Linked DNA regions of Homo sapiens: all the other regions are linked to region 1. The links come from fine-mapping of genetic effects on gene expression. A gene starts in region 1. Each other region holds a variant in brackets. All regions are shown on one strand. Distances are between the middles of the regions. Region 1 holds the start of SGPP2 (sphingosine-1-phosphate phosphatase 2). Region 2 overlaps EPHA4 (EPH receptor A4). Region 3 has its middle 32 kb from the start of SGPP2.

What was found.
Region 2: its variant is fine-mapped to the expression of SGPP2 in monocytes after LPS (Fairfax 2014, PIP 0.95).
Region 3: its variant is fine-mapped to the expression of SGPP2 in whole blood (TOPMed, PIP 0.95).

What each region holds. Positions count from the first base shown.
Region 1 is chr2:222,419,198-222,430,826 of GRCh38, reverse strand. SGPP2 (sphingosine-1-phosphate phosphatase 2) reads right to left here and starts at 6,284. Exons shown (of 5, transcript NM_152386.4): 1 at 6,006-6,284. The coding sequence starts at 6,224. RefSeq lists enhancers at 2,533-2,582, 2,743-2,862, 3,073-3,142, 5,291-5,350, 5,401-5,550 and 1 more and silencers at 5,851-5,900, 5,911-6,140, 6,231-6,580.
Region 2 is chr2:221,475,839-221,483,838 of GRCh38, reverse strand. EPHA4 (EPH receptor A4) reads left to right here. Exons shown (of 18, transcript NM_004438.5): 5 at 1,149-1,487. Among named protein-coding and RNA genes, the nearest start is that of EPHA4, 92 kb to the left of the region's middle. The variant C/T (reference allele first, on the strand shown) is at 3,941.
Region 3 is chr2:222,386,400-222,398,028 of GRCh38, reverse strand. No RefSeq gene overlaps it. Among named protein-coding and RNA genes, the nearest start is that of SGPP2, 32 kb to the left of the region's middle. RefSeq lists an enhancer at 3,680-4,277. The variant G/C (reference allele first, on the strand shown) is at 6,290.

The sequences.
Region 1 (11,629 bases):
ATGTAACAAGAATACATAATTTTAATATGCATCAAGAGAACATGATGTCAACATGACTTACCACTGGTGATGTTGACCTTGATCATCTGGCCAAGGGAGTGTCTGTCAAGTTTCTACACTGTAAAATTACTTTTTTCCCCCTTCTCTTTCTATATCGCACTTTTTGGAAGGAAGTCACTATGTGCAGCCCATGTTTAAGAAATAGGGAGGCTGGCTGTGGTGGCTGATGCCTGCAATCCCAGCACTTTGGGAGGCCAAGGCAGGAGGATCGCTTGAGCCCAGGAGTTCGAGACTAGCCTGGACAACATAGTGAGACCCTGTCTCTATTTTTTTCAAAAAAGAAGAAAAGAAATAGAGAGCTATGCTTCCTTCCCTAAAAGGTGGAATAGAGCCTATGTTCTTTAAGAAAATTAAGGTAAAATATACATAACATGTACCATTTTAACTATTTTTAAGGTTTCGATCACCCTTTTTAAGTAGACCAACTATTTCCTGCTGACACTCTGATGATATCCAAGCTGAACTTGTCATCATTCACCAAAAATGACACGTGTCTTTATGTTCTAGCACATGAGAATCCAGGTAAAGAAAGAGCTTCTCCCATTTTTGCCTGTTTGATTCCTACCCACTCTTTAAGCCCCAACTCAAGACTTCATGGGCTCCCCTGGGAAGGTGAGTTACTCCTGCTATTGTCTTCCTGTCCTTGTATTCATCGTTCTATTCTAGTATTTTTTTTATTTTTTGCACTGCATCCTTTTATTTGGGCTTTCACACAGAAGAAACTAAATTGTATTGATCTTTATGTCTCTAAGTCTGAGGACTGTCCCAGAAACATGGTAGTGATCAATGGATGTTGACTGGAAATGAAGAAAGCAAAGGTGAGATAGAAGCCAAAGTGGTTTATTTTCTCCAAAGATTAAAGAGAGGTTTAACACCTAACATTGGTGAGTGTGTGGGAAAACCTGCCCTCGTAGTGGTTTGCCCTAGCAGACTCTTCCTGTAGGGCAATTCGGTAGTAGCTATTAAGAGCAATAATATATGCATTTTTTTCACTCAACAGTTTCAAGTCTGGACATTTTATTTGGAAGATAATCAAAGACAGGTGGAGAGATACTTGTACAAAGATGTTATCATTTTTAATGCAAAAACTGGAAACAAACCAAAAGCACAGCACCTAGCTGACTAAATTACAGTATATCCATCCTGTGGAGGAACATGCGGCCATTAAAAATTGGGCTGAACATTTACTAAGTGATTAGCAATGGGCGGTGATATAACGGGCATGAATTTAACTTTCTCTTCGTGTGTTTCCAAGTTTTCTCCTGTGAACAATGATGATATCTGTAACTAGAAAAAAAGATCAAATATATTCTTTCGAACTATCTCATTTTGTCATTTCAGATGTAAGCATCCAATAAAGGATAATAAAAACTTGCAGTCTGATCTGTTGGCCAGTTTAGTTATGGTGAAGCCAAAATGTCACGGCTGCCATGACCACTGCCTGCAGCCATCACCACCCTCCTACTGAATATACTAAGGGTGGTGGGTCCCAGGAGAAGAGAACTCAGAGCTTCCCAACTTTGTTGGTCAGCTTCTCTGGACCCCTCTTCTAACCTGGATCTTGGACATTGGTTTATGTTTGTTTTGTTTTGAAAGCTTCTCTAAGTGACTATACTGTACAGCCATGGTTAGAAAACCATGGTTCTTGGCCGGGTGCGGTAATCCCAGCCTGTAATCCCAGCACTTTGGGAGGTGGCCTGTAATCCCAGCACTTTGGGAGGCTGAGGCAGGCACATCACCTAAGGTCAGGAGTTCATGACCAGCCTGGCCAACATGGCAAAACCCGATCTCTACTAAAAATACAAAAATTAGCTGGACATGGTGGTGCATGCCTGTAATCCCAGCTACTTGGGAGGCTGAGGCAGGAGAATCGTTTGAATCCAGGAGGCAGAGGTTGCAGTGAGCTGAGATGGAGCCACTGTACTCCAGCCTGGATGACAGGGTGAGACTCTGTCTCAAAAAAAAAAAAAAAAAAAAAAAAGAAAACCATGTTTTTTTTCCCCCACTCTGCTCATTCTGCAGATGGGACAACCGAGGTTCAGAGAAGTCCAAAATGACATGAAGGTAAAACTAGATCCTGGTCTCCTGGTTTCCAGGATGTAGTATTTGTACTTTAGCACACCAATGAAATCAAGGTTTCGTAGATTAACAGATTTAGAGCCTCAAATGTTTCAAGAGGGAAACTAGGAGTCTAAGATTTCTAGAAACAACTTATCTTTGAACCTCTCCCTAAGTCAATGTGAGAACTATGTCTGAGCAGTTATCAAAAAGTACTGGACACAGGGATATTAGAAAAGATGATCCTTAGTCTAATGTACTGCTGAGGAAGGCACTGCAGAGTCTAACTAAATACAACTGTATTGAGTAAGCAAAAATGTTAGAAATCAAAATACCATTATATACGAGGCTGGCTTTACCCCAGGACAAATAAATGAAATTCTCATCACACCTTTACCTTCCTGGCCCAGTCCTAGGATCCTGCCTTCTGCTCAGGGCAGTGCCTCCCAAAGCAATAACCAAAAATGGCTTCCTACAGTTACTCTTGCAAGTCAGATACCCTTGCAAACTGAAAGCAATACCACCTCTTTTCACACGATCTCCACCCTGTCCCAGCCAGTACCAACAGGACACACCTCAGTGAATCAGATACAGTGAGGCCCTGGAATTTTCCCTGGAATCTGCACAGAGGAAAGAAGTTTAGACTTGGGAGTCAAAAGATCTGACTTCCCCTGACTGTGTGGATATCCTGGAAGTCCTCAATAAATCTCTTAACCCTTCAGGACTCAGACTTTCTGTGAAATTCATGACTACTGGGCAATTTCTAAGGCCCAGTCCAATTTATTCAATGACAGGCTTGTACAAGCCAAGCCCACTCCTGGTTTGTAAAAGATGCAGTTAATCTTTAAGCTAGCAGCGTGTGGTGTAATGAGAACTTGTAGAGGAAACTTTTAGTCACTTGAAAACAGGAAACACTTGTCCTGTTTCAAAATTAAAACAAATATAGACAATGTGAAAGGTGAGAAGGTAAATCAGATTCATTAAGATCTAAAGTCACTCAAATGAAGAAGAAAACTTCTCTATTGTTTGAAGGGTCCTAAATCAACGTCCTGGTGCTACCTTCTAGGCTATGCGGAAAAATCACTTGATTTTCAACATTCACTCATTTTTTTTTAAAGAAAAACGAAACATCGCCAGTCACAGTGACTGACGTCTATAATTTCAGCACTTTGCAAGGCTGAGGCAGAAGGATCACTTGAGGCCAAGAGTTTAAGACTAGTCTTGGCAACATAGTGAGACCCTGTCTCTACAAAAAACAACAATAACAACAACAACAACAACAACAAACCAGATGATGGCATGCATCCGTAGTCTTAGCTACACAGGAGGCTGAGGCAGGAGAACTGCAGGAGTCCAGGATGTGGAAGATGCAGTGACTTATGATTGTGCCACTGCACTCCACCCTGGGTGACACAGCAAGACCCTGTCTCTTAAAAAAAAAGTTTAAAACTATAATTTTATATTGCAATCTACATGCATGTATTCACAAAAGTCACTAGTCCCTCCTACGTGCCAGGCTATGAGAAAAAAATAAGGACCATAACAGAAAAGTTGCCTGCATTCTTAGAGTTTATCATCCTCTGGAGGGGCGGGGAATAATCAGATATCCACACAAAGGCACATTTAAACAACGTGATAAATGCTGTAATGAAGAAATGCAGAAAGCAAAGAAAAACTATAGCAGGGGGAGCTAGGCTGGAAGGTCAGAGAAGTCACCCATGGAGGAACTGACCTTTGGAAATAGAAGGATGAGTGGGGAGGATATTTAGAGAAAAGACAGGCAGCTCAGGCAGGCCAACGCCTGTACAAAGGCCTGCAGAGAGGGCAGCACACTTTTCACAACTGCCCCCTTAAAGTCCTGTAAATTGCCTGAGTGTAGATAAGAGATAATTTTTGAGGGGGGGAATCAATGTGTGTATGTAAAGGATTAATCTTCCCAAGTCATTTGAAACCAACCCACCTGTAAAAACATTAATTAACCTTTCATTTATCAAGCACTCTCAAGTTTATGATTTCCCCCATTATATACCAACACAATGATTTCTTATCTTGGGCATTCAGCTTTCTTGCTTTTACATGATCTGTAAGCAGAAGTCCTGTGTTGGCTGGGTGGGTGTGGGGAAACCGCCACAATTTCACTCACTGAAGACCCACCAGGATTGTCAAGCAGTAAGAAGATAAAACTGTGTAAGAAATCTGCTTAGCTTGCTTTTAAAGGTCAAGAGGATCCAACTGTGGAGTTTAAAGTTAAGTTACCAGGGGTGATGTTTAAAACAGTTTGAGAAGCACTGGTGGAACAATTCACTCTTTTTCAGCTTCCTGAATTAGAGAAACAGGGTAGAAGCTTGTGAAGAGAGCAACAGAAAGCAACTCACGTGTCTACCTGTGGGTGTAAACAGTGTGTGCACCGAATATGTCACGGCACGTTTCAGCCATGGGACTGTTTTTTGTTTGTTTGTTTGTTTGTTTTGGTCTTTTTTTTTTTTTTTTTTTTTTTTTGAGACGGAGTCTCGCTCAGTCGCCCTGGCTGGAGTGCAGTGGCGTGATCTTGGCTCACTGCAACCTCCGCCTCAAGCTATTCTCCTGTCTTAGCCTCCGGAGTAGCTGGAACTACAGGCCGCACCACCACGCCCAGCTGATTTCTTATCCCCCCTACTCTGCCCCGTTTTTAAGACAAGGCAAGAGAAAAAAGAGGGGTTCTCATACTCATCTATAGGTTACCGGAATGTCACATGGGATAAAGAAGGAACAATAAAGAGGAAAAAATACAGAGGAGGATTTCTCTGGAGTAGAACACACAACCACCCTCACCCTCCCAAACAAATTCTGTAATCCAATGCCTATAATATTCCATTCCACACAGAAGCCAGGTTCTTCGTAATTCCTCAGTTACTACATCTAGAAATTTACACGTAAGTAAAGGCCACCTTTCTTTCACCAAAACCTTCTAGGAAGAACAAAATGTGGCTGTGTACAAGGAATTCGAATTATTAATACGTTTATTTCTGTTCTCCTGCGCCACACTTTTGACTTTGCCGAGGGAAAAGGCAGGTGCTGCCAGTGCTCCCGGTAGACATGCGTCCCCAGAAGCCAAGTGCAGCCCGTCTGGTCCCTGCTGCCTAAAGTCCCTGTGCACTGCGACGACGACGCACGCTGGTTCCCCCCAAGCCGCAGTGGGTTGTATAACCACGCTTTGAACACCTAGCGGGAGCGTAGCGAGCTTCCCTCCCAGAAGCATCTGTTAGAAGTCACTGGTGTCGGTCCATAAAAGACCCACCAGGCAGGAGGGACCCCCAGACTCTGGGGGAGGGCAAGCGAGAGTTGCTGTTAAGACATCATCGCCGGGGGTAGTGCAGGGAGGTTGTAAATCTCTCTAGGAGCTGTGTGAGCCCCAAGTTCTGTGCCCAGAGCTGGCGGTGCAGCGCGGTGAGGAGCGCGCTGAGCCCGGCTGCACCCGCATTTGTGCGCATCAGGGAAGGGGGATGGGCGGAAATGCAAGAATACGGGGGTGGGGGGGAGTCTAAGAACGTCTCCCCGGGGAAGTGCCAAGGACATCCCCGCTCCTCCGTTCCATTACGTAACTCTTACATATTTGCTGGCATCTACGTGAATTTAACTACTTTTGAAAGTGGGAAGTCTCTAAATGGACTGCATTGAAAGCGTCTGGGGATATCTCAATAGACCCGGTTGCCCCTGGCAGCGTTGGAGGGTGGCATCCTGGTTACTGGAAGGCCAGGCCTCCCCGTCCGCTCGCAGCGGCGGGAGCCGGGTCACTGCCGGGGACGGCGCCCTCTCGGCCCGGCCGGCCCCGCGTGGCGGAGTCGCAGGGACCCGCACGTCCGCAGCCGCCCCCTCCCCGTACCCGGCGAACACCTGCCCATGGTTACCTCCGGCGCCGCGGCTCTGCGCAGCCCGTTGGCCGGAGCCTCGCCGCCCTTGCCGTTGGCTGCGGGGAGATGCTCGACCCCGGGGACCCGCGCCGCGCGCTCCGTGGGGTCCGCGCCGTTCTCCCGGGGGCCTTCATCCGGAGCGGGGAAGAGCCCGCAGCGGCGCTGGAAGCGGGCGACGAGCTGGGAATCCTGCAGGCTCCGCAGCAGCTCGGCCATGGTGTGCCCGGGGCCGCGCTCCGCCGCCGCTGCCACGCCGGGCCGGTGCCCTCCGCTGGCACCGCCACTCCCGCCTCGCCCCCGCCGATCCCGCACTCCGGGCGGAGGCCGGGCGGGCGGGGCCCCGGGCCCAGCCAACAGGTGCGCCGCCCGGGTCCTAGCGCCCGCCCAGGTGTCTGCCTCCACCTTGCGCAACGCGTCCCCCTTTCTCTCCGTCCCGGAGGGCTTGGGCGGCCCCGGGCGGCCACGGGGGCAGGACCGCCTGTAACTGGACGGAGGAGTGCCGATCTCCGAACTGCGCCTCTCTTCTCCCGGCGCCCCCAACCCCCCACCCCACCTTCTTCCCCCGGCAGACGTAACACTAATGGGAGCGGCCGAGCGCGCGTGCACCTGCGGCCGCTCCCATTAGCCCATCCTTTTGGGCTCAGGCTGATCCCACAGTGACCTTCCTTGCAACTCTGAGCCCAAGGTGAAGTCGGATTTCCTCCCACGCCAGCTCCCCACAGCCAGCCACGTACTCTCACCTTCCTGCAAGACTAGTTCCCAGTAAATACAGCGAGCCCCCCAGGGAGAATTCCCAAGTTCTTTCCAAACTGCGTGATGCAACGTCTCCCTAGAGGTCCGAACACCCTTGAGCTTGCTCAAGTACCCAGGAGGTTCAAAGTGGGCCCTGAGTCATCTTCCGCGTCGCTGCCCCTGCCCTTCTGATTTGGCAACTGGGGAACATTTTCAGGTGGGTGGGAAGGAAAGTCCCTTCTGGGTTTTCCGCATTGAGAACAAAGATGCTTACCGCTTTCTCCTACTTCTTTCTTTCCGCTCTGCCTCTCTTTAAGCAATGACACTGGGAAAACCCCACCAGACCATTTAGGGAGTTTAAACGAGAAGAGAACAAAGTGCTGGAGGACTGGGGACAGGATTAGGTATCTCATTGCACCTGCACCTGCTTTAGAGCACTCAGCAGAAGATAGCAAAGGAAACATCCTGCAGGCCGGCCTTGGTTTTCCCTCCTCCCTCCTACATTTCCCTCCTGGGCTCAGAGATCCCTTGGGAGGCAACAATCAAATTAGGCCCAGGTGATCAGTCTGCAACAAAAGTGCAATTCAACCCCGTCTTTCGTTTGCAGCAGAAACCTGCATGTTTCCTGATTGTCCATGCAAAGCCTACTAAGAATTTGGTTGCACAAATGATTAATGAACACCTGTCAATGCCTTATTTATTCAGTTGTCCTTTTAGGCCTGAATGTCTTTGGGATGTGACTTTCCAGGATGATGTAGTCCCCTTCATGCCCTAGTTTCTACTTTTCTTGCTTCTCAGTCCTGTCTGGAGAGCAAAGTCAAGGGGACTGAGAGAATGCTGAAGCTCTTAAGGGAAACCATTTTCCTCTTACAGAAGACACGCAGAGTTATTGTCATGTCTGGCGGGATCACACACAGAAATGTCCGGCCCAGGAGGTGGAAGCATCTCTCCACAATGCTTCTGGCTGTCATTTACAGGTGTGAGGCAAAACCCTGTGGTTTGGTTTTAGAAGCTGGAGCTGTGATCGTTGGGGACCTGTTCTGCTTATGTGTTAAAGAAATATGTTTTCCTGTGAAGGCACTTGCATCATGTGTCTCCCGAATTTAGTGCTTCGATTTTTCTTTCTACCAGTTAGGAAAAATAGGCAAAGCAAAACATGGCACACGCAGCATTAAGTTAATTGCCAAAGAATTGTATTTGTAGACAGAGCATTTTATCTCCATGGAGGATCAGTTACTGATTCCAGCTTCTAGTGGCTCACCAAGTCACCTGATGTAAGTCACCATATGTCGCAGTTTATCCCTGTAATGAAATGATAATCCTCACTTCTTGTCTTTCTTATAAGGCTCTTGTAAAAATAACCTTGAGACAAGCTCTATAAGGCCTAGTGAGATCATGATAAGAAGGTGTATTGTGCTGGAGTCATTCAATCTAGGAAGGAATCCTCAAGAGAATTTGGCTCTGAACATCTTGAGTAGGACATCTTGAGCCTCCTGGGCAGTGGTAAAGTCCATTTCCCCAGAACCTTTTTTTTCTAAGGCCCAGTCTGATTATTCTGAACATGAATTTCCCAACCAACCTAACAAAAATCAACATCTTTGAGAAGTGGTAGGACTGAAAGACTGCTGTAATGGTGCAGAGATATCAAATAGTAGCTTGCAGTCATGCAAAAAATTTTTTTTTCTTGATACCAGAGAAACACCCTGTAGTTCTTTGATCACTGAACACTAGTCATACCTGTGGGAAATACATTTCACATCCCGCCCCCCGACCTTTTTTTTTTTTTTTTTTTTTTTTTTTTGCCAGGGCAGAAATCCAGTTATTTGTACTTTGCTCACTTGTATATATGTAACAATTACAAAATGACATATTTAAAAGGAATCAATGATGGATATATTAATACTAGTTCGGATAAAGGTTAAGCTACTATAACAAAGAGACCCCAAAATAGAGTGGCTTAAGGAACACAGACATGTATTTCTCTTTCATAGAATGGTTCTAAGGCAAGCAGTTGAGGTTAGTAGGAAGCTCTGCTCCATGGCCCTACTCCATGACTCTGGTTCTTTTCATCTTATTGCTCCACCATGCCCTGAAACTGAGCCTTAGGTCATCGTCCTCTTTTGCATGGTTGAATCTGGGTTAGGGCTGAACATCTGAAGTTCAGCTCCTGAAAGGGTGAAGAGAGAGAGTGTTCTGAGCAGCAATGTCTTATTAAGCAAGTGAGGCAGAAGTTCACACATCACTTTCACTAACATTCCATCAGTGAGAAACAATTGGAAATGTTATCTCTAGCAGGGCAACCTTATGTCAAGCTTAAGCTATATTCCTGTGGAAGAAGTGGAGGACAGAATTTTTTTGTGGGCAACCAGCAGTCTCCACCAGTATTAGGAAACTAATGTTGGTTAAAATGTTGTACAGTAAAAATCCATGTTATAATTCAGCCATAATCTACACATTTTATCTAGGCAGCTTGTCATTCACTTGGCATGTTATAAATACTCATGTGCAGATAGAATTTTTTAAAAGAAGCCACACTAAAAATAAGTTATTCCAAAAGACAATTGGCCAGGCATACATGCCTGTAATCCCAGCACGTTGGGAGGCTGAGGCGGAGGATTGCTTGAGGCCAGGAGTTCAAGACCAGCCTGGGCAACACAGGGAGACTCCATTGCTACAAAAAAATTGTAAAAGTTAGTCAGGCATGGTAGCATGAACTTGTAGCCCTAGCTACTCAGGAGGCTGAGGCAGAAGGATTGCTTGAGGCCAGGAGGTTGAGGCTGCAGTGAGCCATGACCACACCACTGCACTCCAGCCTGGATAACAGAGTGAGATCTTATCTCAAAAAAAAAAAAAAATGGGGGCAGGGACACCTGGTAACCTTTAATAAGTTAAAGTAATTTTTTAAGTGTTGTCAAAATACCTTCATTATAAATGAAAAATTTTGGTATTAATTACATTATTGCATTTTAAGTTCTGATTTAGAGTTATTTCTCTGCAAAGCACGTTACTTCCAAATTACAACTAGACTGTTCAGTTTTCAATTGGGCAATGCTTCCTGGATCAAGACAAGTATACAGAATTTGGGTTCTGTATTGATTATCTATTGCTGCATAACAAATTATCACATAAAAATAGTAGCTTAAAACAACAACATTTATCATCTCAAAGTTTTTGCAGAGCAGGAATCCAAGTGGTTTTAGCTGGGTCCCCTGGCTCTGGTTTCTCACAGGGTCACAGTCAAGGTGCTGGTTGAGGCTACATCATCTCAAGGCTCAACTGGAGGTGGATTTGCTTCCAAGATCACTCAGACGATGGTTGGTAGATTCAATTAGCTGCAGACTGTTGGCCACAGGCCATTCCCTCTTTTTCAACACATGGGCCATTTCATAGAATAGCTCATTATACAGCCTCTTCATAGAATAGCTCATTATACAGCCCTTTACTTCACCAAAACAAGCAAATGAGGAAATCAAGACATACAGAGTGTCTGAACAGGACAAAATAGAAGTATTTTATAGCCCAATCTTGGAGGTAACATTCCAATAGTTTTATCCTATTCTACTTCATAGAAGCAAGGCCCTAGATCTAGCCCACACTGAAGGACAGAGGGAGTGAGACAAGAATATGAGTAGTAAATGGTAGGGATTCTTGGGAGCCTTTTCAGAAGCTGCATACTACAAGTTCTTCATGTTTACATTAATTCTCTAATTTCATAGCCACAATATCAATATTTATTGTCCCTAAGAAATACAATGCATAGTCTTGGCCTCAAGGAGCTTCCATCTGTTGCACACATATAAGATGCATACACAGAGAAAAACGCGTGCAATAATATAAAAACAATACTAAAGGGAAAAAAATGGAGCACCAGATGACAATTTCTATTAAAAACTACACGTATCACAGCTGTAATTCTCAAATCTGGAATCAGAATTATCCCAAAAATCTGCCAAAATTATGGACCTCTTCAAAGAAAGTATAAATCCTTAAATTAGAAAAGAGAAAAACAATGAAACTAACAAATGCAAAATAGAGTTATTGGGAAAAAATGCAACAAAATAGACAAACCATTAGCTAATCTAATAAAGAAAGAACAAGAGGAAAAACAAAAGCACAAAATTTTAAATACTGAAGGAAAAATAATCATTAAAAGCAGAGGAAAAATTTTAAAAGCCTTAGAGGCTACTTTGTACACCTCTATGAAAATAAGTTTTAAAAATAGATGAAATAGATATTATTTAAGGAAAACACAACTTACTAAAATTGATCCCAGAAAAGAAAGTCTAACCAGACTAATTATCATAAAACAGCTAGAGAAAGGGGGTTAAAATACTCCTCTATGGAAAGCACCAGGCCTAGCTGGCTTCACAAAAACATTCTATCAATCATTTAAAAAATGGGTAATCACAATGCTAATTAACATATTCCAGATCATAGATGAAGACATTTTTCAAATTTTCTTTTATGAAGCAATATATTGATCTTGAAACCTGAAATAGTACCAAAAGAAAATGACAGAATACTATCACTTGTGAAAATCATTCAAAAATCTTAAAATATCAGGAGTCAGACTTCAGCAGCTCATTAAAAAAATACTTTTTAATTTAAAAAGTGAGATTCATTATAGTAATGCAAATAAGTTAAGTATTAGAAATCCATTGATATTATCTATCATATTCATAGAACTAAAGAGAAAAATCATATGATCTGTTATGGACTGAGTTGTGTTCCCTACCCTAAAAAAGATATGTTGAAATCCTAATTCCTAATATTTCAGGATGTCATCTTATTTTGAGAGAGGGTCTCCACAAATATAATTAGTCAAGAAGAGGTCATACTGTTACAGGTTGAGTATCCTAAATCTGAAAATCCAAAATTCAAAAATGGTC
Region 2 (8,000 bases), 950 kb after region 1:
TTTGTGTCACAATTTTTTTGCCCTATTAAGACCAATCATGGCCGGGCATGGTGGCTCACACCTGTAATCCCAGCACTTTGGGAGGCCAAGGTAGGCCGATCACTTGAAATCAGGAGTTCAAGACTGGCCTGGCCAACATGGCCAAACTCCGCCAAAGATAGCAGGTGTGGTGGCACACACCTGTATTTTCAGCTACTTGGGAGGCTGAGGCATGATAATCGCTTGAACCTGGGAGGTGAAAGTTGCAGTGAGCTGAGATCACACCACTGCACTCCAGCCTGGGTGACAGAGCGAGACTCCATCACACACACACACACACACACACACACACACACACAAATCTACATCAAGAAACAAGAGTTTCATCATGATCTATAGTCTTATTTTTTATTATTAATATTATTTTTTAACCAACCAGTATGTTGTCGGTAATCAGTTGTTCTGTTTCATAACAACCACTGCCATCACCCATATTTCAGAAACTCTTTGATGTTGCTGGGAATGCACGAGTTAAAGGGCAGGAGGAGGGGTCTGGGAGCCTTGAACAAAACCCCTGCCATCTCGCCACAGCTGTATCTTCAACATCTCTGCAACCGCGTTAAACCAGTTCGTACTAATTACCCATAAACAGCTTAACCCTCCGCTGCCATGTTGAACTGCAGAGGCACATTTCTACAGTTCTGTTAATTTTATTTGCTATTGATGACATGCTGTACTTAGGAATTATAATTTACCTTCAGAAGTGGTATATAACTATTAATTTATCAGAGTCTCACAACGGCCCTGGGAACTAGAATCACTTTCATTTTTTTAGATGATAAGATGGAACAGATAAATTATGATATTTTTCTGCCACTTCATAGGGAAAGCCTGGGCTTGGAGCCCATTTGCTGGAGAGTTGCTTCACATCTCAAAGTGACAACCGATGCCTTGTTTGTTTGCGTGGGAAAGAGAATGACACTCACGTAACAGCCTTCTATTATATTGTTCTTTTAAAAGATCTTTTATGCTGGCTTGATTTGCTTTTTGCTTTCTTTGCCAAGTGGGTTTGCCTTGCTTTGGAGAGCTGCAGAAAATAATACAAACTCTGAGAGATTCCAAAAGGGTATTTCGGTTCTTGGTGTGATGATGTGGTTTTCTTTCTCCAGGTCCACCATCTGCTCCCCTGAACTTGATTTCAAATGTCAACGAGACATCTGTGAACTTGGAATGGAGTAGCCCTCAGAATACAGGTGGCCGCCAGGACATTTCCTATAATGTGGTATGCAAGAAATGTGGAGCTGGTGACCCCAGCAAGTGCCGACCCTGTGGAAGTGGGGTCCACTACACCCCACAGCAGAATGGCTTGAAGACCACCAAAGTCTCCATCACTGACCTCCTAGCTCATACCAATTACACCTTTGAAATCTGGGCTGTGAATGGAGTGTCCAAATATAACCCTAACCCAGACCAATCAGTTTCTGTCACTGTGACCACCAACCAAGCAGGTAGGAATTGAATCTACTTTATTGTATGATCTGAATGTATACAGAGAAAAGGCTTAAAATAATGAATTATAATAAATTGCTATAATTGAAATAGAATCAATCAAGCCTGGGAGCTGCGTTATAATGTAAAAGATACTTAGGGGCTGGGCACGGTGGCTTACACGTGTAATCCCAGCACTTTGGGAGGCCAGGGCAGGTGGATCACTTGAGCCTGAGAGTTTGATCAAGACCAGACTGGGCAACACGATGACACCCCATCTCTACAAAAAAAATACAAAAATTAGCTAGGCATGGTGGTACAAACCTGTAGTCCCAGCTACTCAGGAGGCTCAGGTGGGAGGATTGCTTGAGCCCAGCAGTCAGAGGTTGCAGTGAGCTGAGTCACTCCATGCTGGATGGGATTCATCTCAGTCATTTGAATTATGATGTCCATGGCTGGACATCAGAGCACTTATAGATTATGTACAATTATAAAATTGATTTTTACCAATGCAGAGTGCTCTTTTGGTATTTGTTATATTTTCTAACAAAAGCATTAGCAGCAATAGTTTTGATCTTATGCTTTAATGTAAAATATTATAAATGATCTAGGTGGACCTATACTAGAACCTCCATGTACATCTTTGTGTCTATAGTTAACGAAGTTTACTTTAAGACACTTAATAGTTTTGCAGCTACTTTTTTCTTTTTTTCTTTTTGAGACAGAGTTTCACTCTGTCGCCCAAGCTGGAATGCAGTGGCGTGATCTCGGCTCACTGCAACCTCCATCTCTGGAGTTCAACCAATTCTTCTGCCTCAGCCTCCCGAGTAGCTGGGACTACAGGCGGGTGCCACCATACCTGGCTAATTTTTATTTGTATTTTTAGTAGAAATGGGGTTTCACCATATTGACCAGGCTGGTCTCGAACTCCTGACCTCGTGATCCGCCCACCTTGGCCTCCCAAAGGGCTGGGATTACAGGCGTGATTGCAGCTACTTTTATAGTTGATTTCTTGATTGACGTGGGGGCTGGGAGGGTGGGGCGGAGGGTGGGGCGGCCAGTCTCCTCCAATTCCTACATCACTTTCTGCTAATACAGATGACTAGAAAACATTTCCTGTTCATGAAGTGTTTCTACTGAGTTAATCGCAGAACTGTCATGAAATCTTGAATATCAAATATTTTGAAAATCTAGGTTTCTAGGCTTTCGCTTCTGACTTACTCATCTGTACTCCTTCCCTGAAAAAGTTACCACCCCTCCAGGAGTTTTACATTGCCGGCTTTTTTATTTCTGGAGAGTTAGAGAGGAGAAGGGAAACAGAGTTAGAGTGGCTTATTCTTTGTGAGGCTCTTGGGATAGAAAACATAGCCAGAAAAGGATTATAAATTGCCAACAATCCTATCGCCTCTAACTGCACTTTTCTTTTAAATGAATGTTTCAGTAAGTGCACTCAATAGTTTAGTAAAATATCTGTACTAATTGATCCTATAAGTGAAAACTATTCCAGTGTCCCAATCCAAAGCCATTATTTTTCCATTTTGCCCTGAACTCTTTGGAATAAATAAAAAGTTAAGACTTGGGGAAGGTTTTGAGCAGGGGCTAGAATGGCAAGTCTTACCGGAATGTATCTTCAGCTCTGCAAATGTGAACAGTCTTTTAAAATATCTAATGTGAACGGGTCATCCAGCTAGGCCTTTGTCTTTTAATTCTGAATTTTTAGGTTGTGAACACTGTTCGCAGTCATTAGTTTTATTTTTCTACAAAGACTAGTATGATTTAGGAGTTTTTGATAGAAACATGAGTACTCTGTGATTGCCAACAGTTTATTAGTTCTCTTTTGGAAGAATGCAATGGAAATATTACATACAGATCCTGGGAACACGCATCGGTGCTGCTGGTCTCTCTGAATTAGGAGCTGATGCAATGCAGAACGATTTCTGCACCATCTGGAGAATCTGGTTGATGATCCAATCAGTATTCTTACATGCAGCCCCCTTCTACCTTTTTGGCTATTCATTCGCAAGCACTACATCATTTTCTTAACCGAATTATAAGTAGGGATGGACTTTTGGAGCCTCATCTGTAAAAGGTGAAGTCATTCTCCTTGGCAGAGAAAAGCCTGTGGGAGATGCGCTGAGGACAGGCTTGGCTCCCACAGATTTTGGGGGAGACTTCTATGACCCCCTGTACACGTAGGGATTTGAGCCAAGAAGTTATGTCAACACCTACTGGGGCAAAAGGTCCAGAGAGCACAAAGAAGACACACTAAAATCCTCCAAAAGAAGAAAATGCAAAAACATTTCCGGGGGTGGGGTGGGGTGGGGTGGGATGAAGTTTTATTTTAAATGTAGGTATAATTCTTCTAGATTTAGGAGAAAAGCAGACAGAGAATTACTCTGACACAATAAGGTTTTCTTTGCCATGGCATGTAGTCCTGCCAAGGAGGTTTGCTGAACAGGACAAAATTCCAGCT[C/T]CTTATTTTAATTTTCATGAAGGGTAATGCTGGGAAGCTGTTCAAAATTAAAAATAAATCTTTCAATAAGGAGACCTCCTATGTGGCCAGCCAGAAAGCTTTCACTTAGTAGAGAATTGTATATGTGCAGAGCACTGCTTCATTATCCTATCATAATTTGAAGTTCTCTAATTCAAGTCATCAGGATAGTTTATCTTTGATTAACAAACCCTTTCTTCATAGTAGTGCAAATTAATAATGTAGGCCAAAATTCGGGTGAATGTAGCAACCGTAAACTCTATCGAAGCTCCCCTAAGCATATTTACATACACACAATTATGTTCTAATTGCAATTGCTCCTATCATTTCATTAAATTAAATTCCTTGAGGACCACTATAGGCAATGGTGTCTCACTCTATAAGGAATACATAGAATTAATGAACGTTAGCATTTAGCACCTGGAGGCTACAAAAGTTAGTGGTTCTCCATCTTTGCTCTGTTTTCACAGGGTTCTTTCTCTCATCAGTAATATGTTAGAAATGATAAATCAAATCAATCACGCAAAACCTGCTAGAATTCTTGGGTCCTATGTTCACCACCTTTGAGACTTTAAGAGTTGAGGAGCAGCTCCATGAAGGTGAGGTGACTCACCCATGCTAATGTCAGAGCCAGTACTAAAAAGCAGGGAGAATCCTACTCCTGAAAGTAGAAAGTTGCTTTCCTTTAAAATTAGGAGATAATGAATGGCATTCATGTATTCAGCTTGGCATTCTCCCCATTTATGAGACCAGATTATGTGAGTATCTGGGCATGGACATGGAGATTGAACTGGGCTTTGATCATTTAATTGTAGAATGTGGTGTGAATGGGCCTGTGTTCTCACAAGGTTATTTAAACAATCCTAACCCAAATCTTACTCCTGGGGTCTTAGGGGGTTAATAAACACCCTTTTGCTCCCCTTCTGGGTTGAAAACCAGTTGACACAGAAGACAAAGGAAATCTGAATGTCTGTCAGCTTTTTGCTGATAAGCTGATGGAAGGATGTGAGCTTTATATCTGTGGCCAAAAGGGCTTGCTTCAGTGACACTTGCAGCCCAGCTGGCTACCTGCAGCCTCTCCGCCTGCCCTGCTAAGGTTGTTGGAAGGACACTCTGTGCAGGCAGACAGGTAGGCAGATAGGCAGATAGGCAGATAGACAGGTCTGAGAGTGGGTGGAGCTGAGGACAGAGTACTTTTCCCAAATTCTCTAATGAGATGAGTCACTCCCAGCCTCACCCCCATGCCAGAAACAATGAAGGGAAGAGGTGGGAAAAGAGTAAGGGTGGGGGTGTTACTTTTCCAGCTGAAGTCGTACCCAGTAAAATTGGAGAAGAGGAAGCTCTTGGAGCTCCCCCAATAGTTACTTTTCTACATTACAGGCCAAAAGGAGGAAAATGAGATTCCAGTTTCCTTCATCTTTCATCCTGTAGCGACTGTTTTGTCTTTTGTTTAGAAGCAGGTAGTCCTGATGTTTATGAAAAATGGATAAGCAAACTGCTGGGTGATTTGTTTTCTGGATGGCTTTCCTTTGGTTTACTTTCACTTAAGTGGACCATCTCAGGCAAATGAATACAGGATGTGTCACTAGGAGGGAGAAATACTGTATAAATGAAACAAGGTTTTCTGGCCAAGCAACAGACCTGTGAATATTTTTTTTTTGTTAAAAAGGCTGTGATGGCAGCCAGCAGTAGCTTAATATCTCTGAACGGTTTTTTGCCGTTCATCTCCCATCGCCTTTGCTTGGTTTTCTAGCTGTGAGGCTGGACCATATTCTGGCGTTTTAAATCATTATGGTCCCAACCCCCATGAATGGTGTTCCCTCCTCACCCCAAATTGCACCCAGGGCCGGTGTTGTCCATTTTTTATTTTTACTTTGCATGTGATGCTATTCTAGATACTTCATAATGGAAAGATCTGGTCATCTCTCTCTAGCACAGCTATGGTGTCCTAGTGACAAACAAACATCTGTAGCATGCTTAGTTTGGAGGAGTTAAAATATTTGATGCATTACGTAATTATTTAAACCAGCTAATCTCTAAGATCTTTTCCGTTTCAAAATTCTATGATTCTAAGTATGTAACCCTGAGCTGTGGGCTATGAACCTGAAGAAGTAAGGCTTATTCTTCTAACATGTTTAGAAATGGTCTCTCAATGCAATTCTAAGAGTGGGAAAACATTCTCCAAATGCTTCAGCAGAATTATCACCTGAATTCTGCCTGCCCTCCTTCTCTCTAATTCCTTGCCTTGCCAAGGGATTTACGTTGCGGGGGGAAAACAGTAAGATAGTGAACAGTTGTTCTAAATTGGGGGTGATTTCTGCTCCTACCCCTAATGGGCAATGTTTAGAGGCAATTTTTGGTGCAGTTGCATCTAGTGGGTAGAAGCCAGGCAGGCTGATAAACATCTTATAATTCACAACACAGCATCCCCAATCCTCCGCAATGAAGAATTTTCTGGTCCAAAATGTCCATAGGGCTAAGGCTGAAAAACTCTGTTCTAGCAATAGTTTTTAAGAACAGACTTCATAGCAGTGCCCACCATTTCAGGGTTCCATAGCCATGTGGCCTTTGCTTGAGCTGGCCTGTGGCTGAACACATAGGGAAGATTCCACATTTCTCTGGCTCCATTGCCCCATGCTGAAAGCATGATGCTCCCGTTACTGTTCTCAGAGAACAGGCAGTTGTAAAGGGCCTTTCAAGGCCCCTCATGAATCCTGTTGTAGCTGTTTTGCCATCAGATGAACGGGCGCTGCTTGTTAGGCTGACCTTGTTCTCTAGGGTTGGACAATTAAGCATTAACTGCAAAATAATAATAATAATAATAATAATAATAAAATAAAGTGGCATTACACCTCATTATAATGCCACTGTGCCACATGTAGTCATTGTACAGTTCCATCTGTTTGTTGATTAACATTTATTTACAGTAAAATCAAATCAGTTAACTCTCTTTGTCAAGTAATGATAAATTTAATAAAACCAAAATAATGAATAAAGAAAAGAAATAACTAAGTGTAAGAGGCACACTGTCTTTTATTATTCAACTGGTAAGTTCCCATTCTTTCTCTCTCTGCCATCTTTTAATTAGACATATTATGTTATTTGAGTGGGATAATGGAGAACAGTGGGAATTCTCATCCCCACTGGGTATAATTGCTACCTGTCTTCTAGATAGTAAGAGGAAAGCTTCAAGAAAATGGTGGGAGAAAGGGGAAAATCTTACAGCAATCAATTTAGGTAATATGCTGTAGGCATGGCAGAGCCAGACTTTGTGGAGTTTAAAGCTTAAACAACTATTGTGTGATTAAGGGTGAAAACATAAAACCCTACAAAATTACAAATGTCAGACTAGTAACAGAGCTTCAGAAAGGGTCCATACAAACTTCTTTAGCTTCGGTAAATAAAAATCTGCCTCTGACTATGTTGAGATAAATGCAATTGTCAGACAACAAGACTATTGCATAATCATCCCTAAAAACAGAAAGGACAAGGGAGAAAGATGAGATGTTGGGAAGTCCAGTTTGGCCTGAAATGAAGGTGTTGAAAGACAGGTTGTGACAGTGAGTGGTTCTGGCCCACAGTTAGGTATGAGGGGCACCTCTGGAGTGGACCTGAGTTGTGGTCTGAGATCAAAGGGACAAGCAGAAAGCACATTCCTGCTGATTCTGAGAATTGTTTTGGAATACTAAACCTAAATGAGATGATGTGATCTCGGTTCATGCAACCACTGCCTCCCAGGTTCCAGCGATTCTCATGCCTCAGCTTCCTGAGTAGCTGGGATTACAGGCGGGCGCCACCACATCCAGCTAAGTTTTCTATTTTTTAGTAGAGATGGGGTTTTCCATGTTGCCCAGGCTGGTCTCAAATACCTGGCCTCAAGTGCATCCATCTGCTTCAGCCTCCCAAAGTTCTGGGATTACAGGTGTGAGCCACCTCACCTGGCCAAATGATGATATTTTTAAGACACAAATGTTTGCTTCCTTTAGTGCCCTAAAGCAGGGGTCAGCAAGCTATGGCCCAAGGGCCAAATCGAATCCTCCAG
Region 3 (11,629 bases), 33 kb after region 1:
CTAGATGTTTACAAGTATATTAGTCAGTTCTCACATTGCTATAAAGAAATACCTGAGACTGGGTAATTTATAAAGAAAAGAGATTTAGTTGGCTGATGTTTCCACAGGCTGTACAGGAAGCCTGATGCTGGCATCTTCTTGGCTTCTGAGGAGGTGTCAGGAAACTTACCACAATCATAGCAGAAATGGGGGCAGGCACGTCTTACATGGCAGGAGTAGGAGAAAGAGAGAGTGAGGGAGGAGGTGCCACACACTTTTAACCAGCTCTCAAGAGAACTCACTCACTATCATGACACAGTACCAAGGGGAAAATCCACCCCTATGATCCAATCTCCTCCCACTAGGCCCCACCTACAACATTGGGGATTACAATTTGACATGAGATTTGAGCGGGGACACAGATCAAAACCATATCAACTAGGAAGGTGTGAAAGGAACAGGGAGGAAGCAGGATTGGACAGAGGAAGATGTTAAACTCTGATGCAGCCTTGACAAGTCTCAACCAACCCTGTGGTGAGCTCTGAGAAAAGTACTGCCCTTCAGAGCATCCTACTTCAGGCCAAAATATTCCTCATCCCACTTAATCACCAGATAAAGGCTGCCCTGGAAAGGCCAAGTCTCTGTGTAGGTGGTTCTCTGAAGCTGAGGCTAATCTTAAAGAAAGTGATATTTGGGGGCTGTCTGCTGACTGTACTCCTTTCAGCCTGCCAGCAAATTCTTCCTTGAAGGAGGCCTATGAAAGCAAATCTATGTCTATCACACAAGCTGATTCTAAAACTGATAGAAAAAAAAAGCCAAGAATAGCTAAGATATTACTCCTGAAGACAAAGGAGGAAGAGGTGAGAGAGGAAGAATGATGAGGAGGGGAAGGAATAAAGGGATTTGTCCTACCAGAAACAAAACTTATTTTTATTTACCTATATATTTATCATTTTCTGTGTTTTTCATTCCTTTGTGAAGATTCAACTTTCCTGCTGGTAGGATTTCCTTTAAGCCTGAAAAACTTACAATGTGGGCCTTTTGAGATAAATTTTCTCAGCTTTCATTTACATGAAAAGGTCTTTATTTTGCTTTTGTATTGCAATGTATTTTAGCTGGATATAGAATTCTGAGTGAGTTGATGCCAGGCGCGGTGGCTCACACCTGTAATCCCAGCACTTTGGGAGGCCAAGGCGGAAGGATCACAAGGTCAGGAGATCAAGACCATTCTGGCCAATGTGGTGAAACCCCATCTCTGCTAAAAATACGAAAATTAGCTGGGCGTTGTGGCGTGTGCCTATGGTCCTAGCTACTCAGGAGGCTGAGGTAGGAGAATCACTTGAACCCAGGAAGCAGAGTTGCAGTGAGCCGAGATCATGCCACTTCACTCCAGCCTGGGTGACAGAACTAGACTCTGTCAAAAAAAAAATTCTGAGTTGACAGGGATTTTTCCTTTTAATACTTTTCAGATGTCATCTTCTTATGCTTAGGTCTCCATTTTTTCTGATGAGAAGACTGTGGTCATTCTTATGTTTACTTCCCTGATTGTAAAACCTTTTTGCTTTGGCTACTTCTAAGACTCAGGAATTGGACTAATATATATCTAGGTGTGGTTTTCTTTGGAACTTGCCTGCTTGGGTTTTGCTGAGCTTTCAGATATCTTTCATCAAATTGGGAAAAGTTCTGGTCATTACTTCTCCAAATATTTTCTGTTCTAATATTTGAATCCTCTCATTCTGGGACTATACTTCCACATGTTTTGGAATGCTTAATATTTGCCATAAGTTACTAAGATGCTTTTCTTTTTCTTTTTTTCCAGCTTTTCCCCCTATCTTTTTTCTTCAGCTTCTTAGATAGTATTATGGGCTAAATTGTGCCCCTACCTCAAATTCATATTTTGAATTCCCAACCCTTAGTACCTCAGTGTGTAATCAAGTTTTGAGATAAGGTCTTAAAGAGGGGACTGAGTTAAAATGAAAATATGACAGCTGAGAAGCCTATAATTAAAATAAAATAAAATAAATAAAATAATAAAATAAAATGAGAATATCAGAGTTATCCAATCTGCCTGATGTCCTATAAGAAGAGAAAGGACACCAAGGGTATATGTGCACAGCAGACACCCATATGAAGAGGTAGCAAGAGGGTGGTCATCTAAAGTTAGAGGCCTTAGAGAAAACTAACCCTGCTGACACCTTGATCTTGGACTTCCAGCTTCAGAACTGTCAAAATAAATTTGTCTCGTTTAAACCACCCAGTCTGTGGTATTTTGCTATGTATTACTAGCAGACTAATCCAGATAGGTTCTATTGTTTCTTATTCAAGTGCATGGATCTTTTTCTCTGCAATTTTCAATCTGCTATTAATTCCATCTATTATTTCCTGAAAATATAACTTTTTTGTTTCAAATGTGGTATTACTAATTTTTAGAATTCCCATTACTACATTAATATTCCCCATTTTTATGTCTCATTATATGCATATTTTCTTTTACATCCATGGATATATTTATAATAGCTATTTTTAAGTGCTTGTCTGTTAAATTCAACATCTGGTCATTGCCATTGAGGATGCAAAGATGGGAGAACTTTGCTAAATTTTTCTTTCCTGGTTATGGCACATTTTCCTGCTTCTTTGCATATCAAGTATTTTTTTCATTGTATTCTGCCATTTTTTTCTTTAGAGATGAAGTCTCACTCCCAGGCTGGAGTGCAGTGGCACAATCATAGCTCACTGCAGCCTTGAACTTTCAGGTTCAAGTGATCCTCCCGCCTCAGCCTCCTGAGTAGCTGGGACTACAGTGTGAGCCACCATGCCTAGCTTGTATGCTGGTCATTGTTAATACACGTTGAATATCCCTTATCCAAAATGCTTAGGACCAGAAGTATTTTGGATTTGGAATTTTTTTTTTTTTACAGATTTTGGAATATTTGCATATATATAATCAGATATCTTGGGGATGGGACCCAAGTCTAAACACAAAATTTATTTATATTTCCTATACACCTTATATACGTAGACTGAAGGCAGTTTCACAATATTTTAAACAATTTTGTGCATGAAACAAAGTTTTTGTGCATTGAGCCACCAGGAAGCAAAGCTGTCACAATCTTAGCCACCCATGTGAACAATCTGATTGTTTGGCATCACGATCATCCCTGGCTCTAAACTGATATGCTACTCATAAGCAATAATTTTCTTAAGCTTATTCACACATAAATACTTAACATTAAAACATATGATATGCCATTAATACAATGAAGAAATATTGTGTGCAGAATAACTAAGTAGCACAGTAGCATCACCAGAATACCTGTCTCAGCTGTTAGACAACGGCAACAACAAACAGTGATAGGTTGCAACCTCCACCTGATGCTTTTCTTTGACTAAAAGGTTACTAGACAGTGTGTTTCTTTTTCTTTTTTTTTGTTTGGTAAGAAGAAACATCAAAAGTAATTGAGGGACCAGGAAATAGGTCCTCTAGGAATGAAGAGGCATTCTGCAGGATGGCTTTTAAAAATGTTTTCTCCAGAATAATCTGCCTCATTAACAATGAGTTTTTGCTTAGATGTCTTTTCTTGATTTTATAAACTGAGAAGGTTTCTTGTCTTGTTATAAATATACACTGCTGTAGTCCTTCAAAAAGCCCACCACACATTTTCACCATGTTGTCAATAGATACTTTTCCTGTAGTGTTGACATCATCTTCATCATCACTATTATCATCATCTTGATTGGGAACTGTTTTGTCATATTTCACCATTGATCATTGAATAAACAACTGGAGCCTTGTTATTGATGTTAAAAACTTTTTCAATTATCACCTTCTTCCAGCTTATTGATGGATTTTAAGGATACATTTCTTGAATATGTAAGAAGGTCAGATGTCCCTGGCGATCCATGCCTTTTGTTAGCATAATAAAGGACTGCTAAGAAATTCACTCCTTGAGGACAGCAAAGCTTTTGCCTATCACAGCAAGTTTACACTCATGCATACCTGCTGTGTTACCACATCCCAGCACAGTTATTCTGTCTTTGCATCCTTAATTCCTGTAGGGGCTTTCTCATCAGATGTAGTCGGTGTCTTTCTGGAGCAATAAGGCCAAAAGTGTTGATTCATCAGTATTATAGATGTGTTCTGGCATCAGATTTTCATCAGCGATGACCTTGACGAACTCATCAGTGAATTCCTCTGCTGCTTTGTGATCAGCAGATGCTTAATCACCAGCAGTCTTTACAAATTTAAAGCAGTGGTTCAAATTTTTACAGGTTCTGTTCATTGTTAACCCCAAAGGATATATCTACCTCTCTTTTGGGTATCATTCTGGGACCACCAGTGAGCAAAGTAGGGTTTGACCCCAGAGGCTCTGAAGTGAGTCCAAAGAAAACATTTATGAAATTAATGCTAAGGCCACAGCACACCTAAGGGTGAAAATGTACTCCTTCTTCCATTTACTATCACAAGTTATGTCCAGTCACTTTGTCCAATAGAGCTCATCAGAAATTACACAATGAGATCAAGTGATTATATTAAGATTTTCCCACAATAAAATACAAATAAAAAGCATTCTGATAAAAGAAACTATAAAGAAACACATAGAAAAGTTTGTTACAAAAGTGTGGATGATACTTGCAGATCTGTAAAGTGTTAATGGTGGAGGGTATCTAGGTTCCTGGCATCTTGAACAAAGAATTAGACAAAACGCACAAAGCAAGGAAAGAATGAAGGGATTTATTGAAAATGAAAGTACACTCCACAGTATGGGAGCTGGCCCGAGCATAGGGGCTCAAAGGCCCTGTTACAGAGTTTTTGTGAGTTTAAATACCCTCCACTTGGGGTACCCCCTATGTAAATGAAGAGGATGAAGTAAAGTTACAAAGTCATTTACTCGATGTATGCCCTATGGAGAGGATATTTCCTGTTATAGCTGAAGTGTCAATAGGCCTTATGTTTCCTGCCCCCAGACCCTATTTTCCTGCCTCAAAAGGAAAGGTCATAGAGGGAACTTCTCGGGTACTGCCAGTACCATTCCCAAACTGGGTGGTCTTCACATGGATGTTTGCTTTGATAGTACTCTTTAAAATGCACATAGGGCCAGGTGCAGTGGCCCACCTCTGTAATCCCAGCACTTTGGGAGGCTGAGGTGGGCGGATCACTTGAGTCCAGGAGTTCAAGACTAGCCTGGGTAACATGGCAAAAACCCCCATCCCTACAAAAAATACAAAAATTAATTGGGTGTGGTGCCACGTGCCTGTGGCCCAGCTACTCAGGAGGCTGACGTGGGAGGATTGCCTGAGCCTGGGAGGCAGAGGTTGCAGGGAGCCCAGATCATGCCACTGCACTCCAGCCTGGGCAATAAACCCAGACCTGCCTTAAAATAAAATAAAATAAAATAAAATAATTAAAATAGAATAAATAAAAAGTAAAATGCACATATATGTTTAATACATTTTCTGTATGTATAATAATTTTAATGATAATAAATTTCTTTTAGAAAAATAAACTTCATTAATGAAATGCCAACAACAAGATGTGCTAAGAAAAATTAGTATGTCTTTCTCAAATTTCTGCAATCAGTCTGTTGAATATTTACAGTTCCTTTCACTTTTCAGTTCATTGTGATAGTTCTTTACTGGTTTTGTGATTAGCAAACAATTAAGTTGTATGTGTTCTTTGTGACACAGACAGACCTACCTTTTCAACACATGATCAAGATCTTCATTTTTAGCTTTATGCAGCATTTTCCCATTTTTCACTTTCATTAATATATGTTCATCACTTTTAGCATAGAACTGCTACAGTTTATCCTTCTGTTTCTTCAGGGCATGTATGCTGGTAATTCTAATACCATAATCTTCTGTAAGATGTTTTACACTTACACCACTGGCTGGTTTCTCCAACAGCTGGACTTTCTGTGCTATGGATAAGCATAAATACTTCCTCTTTTCCTTATCACTGTACTCATAAGGATATCTGCAAGATTTTTTGACATTTGCAACAATATCTATACCACAGTGCAGAGAATAAGCAAGAAAACACAGTGAGTAATGCATGTAGGTCTTGGCCCCATGTGGAGCATCATGGGGAACATGGATCCAGCCTGTACATACGTGTGTCGTTTCATTACTCATCGTGGGCATGCTTGCAGGGAGAATCTGGGTGTGTGCCGAAAAGATGTATTACAGCTGAAGGGGGCTGGGAGGGTCGTTTTCCCTTGGGGATGCTGAATAAACTGTGCGTTGTGTGCCTTTATTTGACTGTGACCCATCACATAAGGTCAGGTGTGGAATTTTTCACTTGTGGTGTCAT[G/C]CTGGTGCTCAAAAAGTTTCCAATTTTGGAGTTTCAGATTCGGGATGCTCAATCTGTACTAAGTTGTTAGGACTTTGGATTTTGTTGTCTCCCTTCAAGAATGCTGAGCCTTGTTCTTGTAGGGAGTTAATTTGCTGTAAGATCAGCTTCGTAAGCCCTCACTTTAAGGCTAGGGTAGCTTTACTCCATAAGAATAGTCCTCTAGAATCTCAACTCATTGCCACAGTGTTCGAATAGATCTCTCTACACTAACTGGCTATAACTTTACTGATCTCAGCTCTGTGAAACCTTCAGAGATTGAGCTTAGTGTTGAACCAAACAGAAGCCTTTCTCTATTATCTCCCTTCTTTCCAACACCTATGTCACAACTTCCAGTTGCCTCAGCAGCCCCCAAATCTGATCTTTGTTCCTCCATCCAGTAAGAGCACAGCTTTTGTTGAAGCTCCATTTCTCAATGCCTTGGCTTAGAAAATGCCACAGGCAGAAAGAGAGCTGGATGTGGAGCTCCCCTTCTGTGTCTTACTCTTAAGGATCACAGCCCTGTGCTGTTGTCTCATGTCTTTGTCCTGTTTTATAGATGTTCACAGTGTTAGAAGTCAAAACTTATTTCAAAGCCAGCATCATTAAGTCTATTGGTTTTGGCTCAGGGAGAGAAAAATTGACCAATGAAACTGAACATAGAGCCCAGAAATAGATGCACACGCATAAGCAAACTTTAAATGTGACAAGATGGCATTGCAGATCATTGGGAAAAGCATGGAAGATTCAACATGGGTGCTGGCCTCTAATTATCCATATGGAAAAAAATAAATCTGAACTCATACCTCACACCACCCACAAAAATAAATTTCAGGTGGATCATGATTTGCATATGAAATGTCAAGATTAAAAATGTTTCGAAGGCTATGTAAGAAAATATATTTTCAGGATAGGATTTTTAAACATAAGGCAAAACTGCTAATTATGAAAGGAAATATTGATACATTTGAGTCTATTAAAATTAAGAACTTATGCACTGCAGAAGACATCATAAGAAAATGAAAAGAGAAGCCCAAAACTGGGAGAAGATATTTACAAGCTATATAACTAGCAACATATTATTTGCAAGTCGATAAGAAAAAGACAAACCATCCAGCAGAAAATGGATAAAAGACATGAACCACATAATTAGAGCAACTTTAATAATGGAAAGATGCTAAACACTATTAGTAATCAGAGAACTGCAAAATAAGACTCTAATGAGACATTATTTAAGCCTATAAGATGGCAAAAATTAAGAGGTATGAAAATACTACAGGCTGGTGATTAGCTAGAGCCATGAGAGCACTTTGGCATTGCTGATATGAATGGAAATTGTTATCACTTTGGAGAACAACTTTGCATTATCTTTAAAATAGAACTCTTATACATGTGCACTAAGAGGCACGTACAAATATGTGCATAATAGCATGGTTCATAATTATAACAAAAAAATGAAAGTATTGTAAACATCCATCTGTAGGAGAATGGATGAATTGTGATATGGTCTCAGAATAGAATATATTTCAGTAGTGAAAATAAATGAACTGTAAGTTCACATAACCATATGGATAAATATTAGAAACAAGATTGCTTGAGCCCAGTTTGAGACCAGCCTGGACAACATAGTGAGACCCTGTTTCTATCTAAAAAAATTCTTTAAAAATAATAAATACATAAAGTAATTTGTAGAGAACAATTTACAATACTATAATTTTCAAAAACAAGAACACGCGATGTCTTGAGTAGTGATACATATAAAATAGAAATATATATATTTATAATATTTATATAACATAATATAAACATGTTATATATAACATAATATAAATATTAATATTATATTTATATAAATATATTTATATATCACATATATGTGATATATATCATATATGTATATATGTATATACATATATACAGTATACATATATACATATACATATATACATATATGTGTGTATATACATATATACAGTATACATATATACATATACATATATACATATGTGTATATATACATATATACATATATGTGTGTATATACATATATACAGTATAAATATAAGTATTTTATATCACATATAATAATATATAATTAATATATTATATATCATTAATTTATATTAATATACAATAATATAGTTATATATAATATAAGTTATACACTAATATATATTGTTAATACATTATTATATCAATATATTATATTTATATATTATATATAATTCAAGGTATCACCCACACCTTTGGGGGTGTGGGTGATAGGATCAGGTGAAGCACACAGAATGAAATTGGTAATGTTCTAGTGTGTTAATTGGTGGTGGGTTTATCTATCTAGCAGATATTATTTGACATTATCAGATATTACATATCTTAACATTAAAATTATTAAATATGTGAAAACAACTTTAAAAATAGAATTAAAATATTTGGGCCCTTTAGTTAAAATAGTGTAAAGCGAGTTCATAGAACATTATAATTTGAAGCACTGGTTTGAGGACTATATTAATTTTCTATTGGTGACGTTACAAAGCATCACAAACTTAGTGGCTTAAATAATTATCCTACAGCTCCAGACATTAGAAGTCCAAGGGTATTACGGGGCTAAACCAAGGTATTGGCAGAGCTGAGTTCCTTCTGGGCATTCTAGGGGTGAACCCATTCCTAGCTTTTTCCAGCTCCTAGAGACTGCCTGCATTCCTCTCTGCTTCACTCGTCACATCTCCTTCTCTCACTCTGATCCTCCTGCCTCACTCTTATAAGGACCTTTGCAATGACACTGAGCCCTCTTGGATAATCTAAGATAATCACCCCATCTCAGGATCTTTGACTTAATGACACCTGCAAAGCCCGTTTTGCCATAGAAGGTGATATATTCACAGGTTCTGCAGACTAGGATGTGGACATCTTAGGGAGAAACTATTCTGTCTACTTTAGTACTTTTGACGTTGCTGGGAAACAGCTGGGAAATTCTGAGTTAAGACACTTAATATACCTTATTTATGAAAGAAGAGAAGGAAGGAAGGAAAGAAGGGAGGGAGGGAGGGAGGAAGGAAGGAAGGAAGGAAGAAAGGAAGGAAGAAAGGAAGGAAGAGCAGACAGACGACTTAGCAGCTATTGACAGAAGCTTAACTTCCACAGCCAAGTCATCCTGAGAGTGAAGCTGGAGGAGGACACAGCTTTAAGAATCAAAAATAAACAGGGCTAAAGACCTAATGTCCACATGAACCTCTGAGTCAAAGTAAATCTAAAACTTATCTCTGGACTTACACAGTTAACCCTTGAACAGCACAGGAGTTAGAGGTGCTGACCTCCTGCACAGTCAAAAATCCCTGTATAATTTCTGACTCCCCTGAAACTTTACTAATAGCCTATGTTGCCTGGAAAACTTACCAATAATATAAACTGTTAGCTAATACATATTTTGCATGTTATATGTATTATATACTACATTCATACAATAAAGTAAACTGGAGAAAAAATGTTATTAAAAAATCATAAGAGAAAATATACGTACTCTTCATTAAGTGGAAGTGGATCATTATAAAGTTCTTCATCCTCATTGTCTTCACATTGAGTAGGCTGAGGAGGAGGAAGAGGAGGAAAGTTCAGTCTTGCTGTCTCAGGGTGGCAGAGGCAAAGAGAATCCACTTATAAATGGACTATGTAGCTCAAGGATCAACTGTATTTTCCTTTTAGTTACATTTCTTTTATAAAATTTACCCCCACTTTACCCAGCAAGCTTTCAATTTCTTGGTAGAGATATTGCCTTGGTGAACCTACTTTAATCTTGGAAGTGCAGCAACTTGCGTTAGGCAACTCCATGGTTGATTAGAATTTGGGGACTGATTAATAGTAACCAGTAACTGGGGTGCTAATTGCCTATCCAACATCTCTTCTAATTTTTCCCTTAGTAATTAGAGCCTGTTTTATTCAAGGTGGCAATGTGCTCAGCTGATAATTACCTTTTTTGGTCTTTCTTTCAGATACATGTGGGCATTGTCAAAGTTCTGGCCAATGGGGAGTATTACATTATTCTTTTTCCTGCTTCCTGGAATACAGAGTTGAGTGCTGGAGCTTCAACAGCAATCTTGCAGCAAGAGGTGACTATGAAGACAGAAATTAATCACTAGGGTGATGGGTGCTATAGACTGAATGTTTGTGTCCCTTTTGCCCCCGACAAATTCATATGTTGAAATCCTAATTCTCACTGTGATGGTATTTGGAGGTGGGACCTTTGGGAGGTGATGAGGTCATAAGGATGGAGCTCTCATGAGTGGGATTAGTGCTTTTATAAAAGAAATCCTAGAGAGCTGTCTTGCCCTTTACTGTCATATGAGGACACAGCTAAAGGAGAGCCATGTATGAACCAGAAAGCAGGTCCTCACCAGATACTAAATCGCTGTTGCCTAGATCTTGGACTCCCTAGTCTCTAGAACAATGAGAAATAAATGTTTGTTGTTTAAGCCATCTAATATATATTATTTTTATTATATCAGCTGGAACAGACTAATACCATGGAACAGACAGAAATAACCTAGGTCTCCACTGACTTTGTGAACTGATGCCAATCCTGATCCACCTACTTGTGGTCTTCTTTTGCAGGTAAGCATAAACTTTGTGCATATAAGCCACTCTTATTTTGGATTCTTTTTATATACAACTAAATATATCCTTAACTCTTAGACTAAAATAATAATGTATATAAACAGGAATAGATTATTCATTTACAATGAAAACATAATTATAAATTCCATGTATATAAAAAAGAATCACAAATTATTCATTTACAGAGAAAAGGTAACCATAAATCCCATGGGGCCAGACTACTTAATTGAGTCAATATATTCTCTCCTCTAGAAATCTGTTTGGGAAGCAGAGAAAGGAAGGCAAGGGGTCTAGCAGACCAGCTTTTAGGGCCAGCTTCATTAAGTCAGAGACCTTGAGGACTCACAATCTACATGGAGATAGATGGGCACCAGGGGCTGCATCTCTAGCTCTATGATCAGAGGATTTTCCTCCAGACAATAGTGGGTGAACACGGTTCAACCTTGCTTCTTCAACCACCAACATGTATTCCTTGCTCTGAATCTACAGTCTTTAGATGGGTCATCACCATCACTAAGGTTCTAGTCAGACCTGCTACTACTGTTATTGACTTTAGACTGATCTTTTACATAATTTTTTTTGAGAATTTAGAACACATGCAGAAGCAGACAGCCTAGTGTAATGAATATCCTATGTACCCCTCATCCCATCCCAACAATCACCTTCCCATAGCCAATACTGCCCCATCATACCCCCATCTGTTTCCCTCCATCC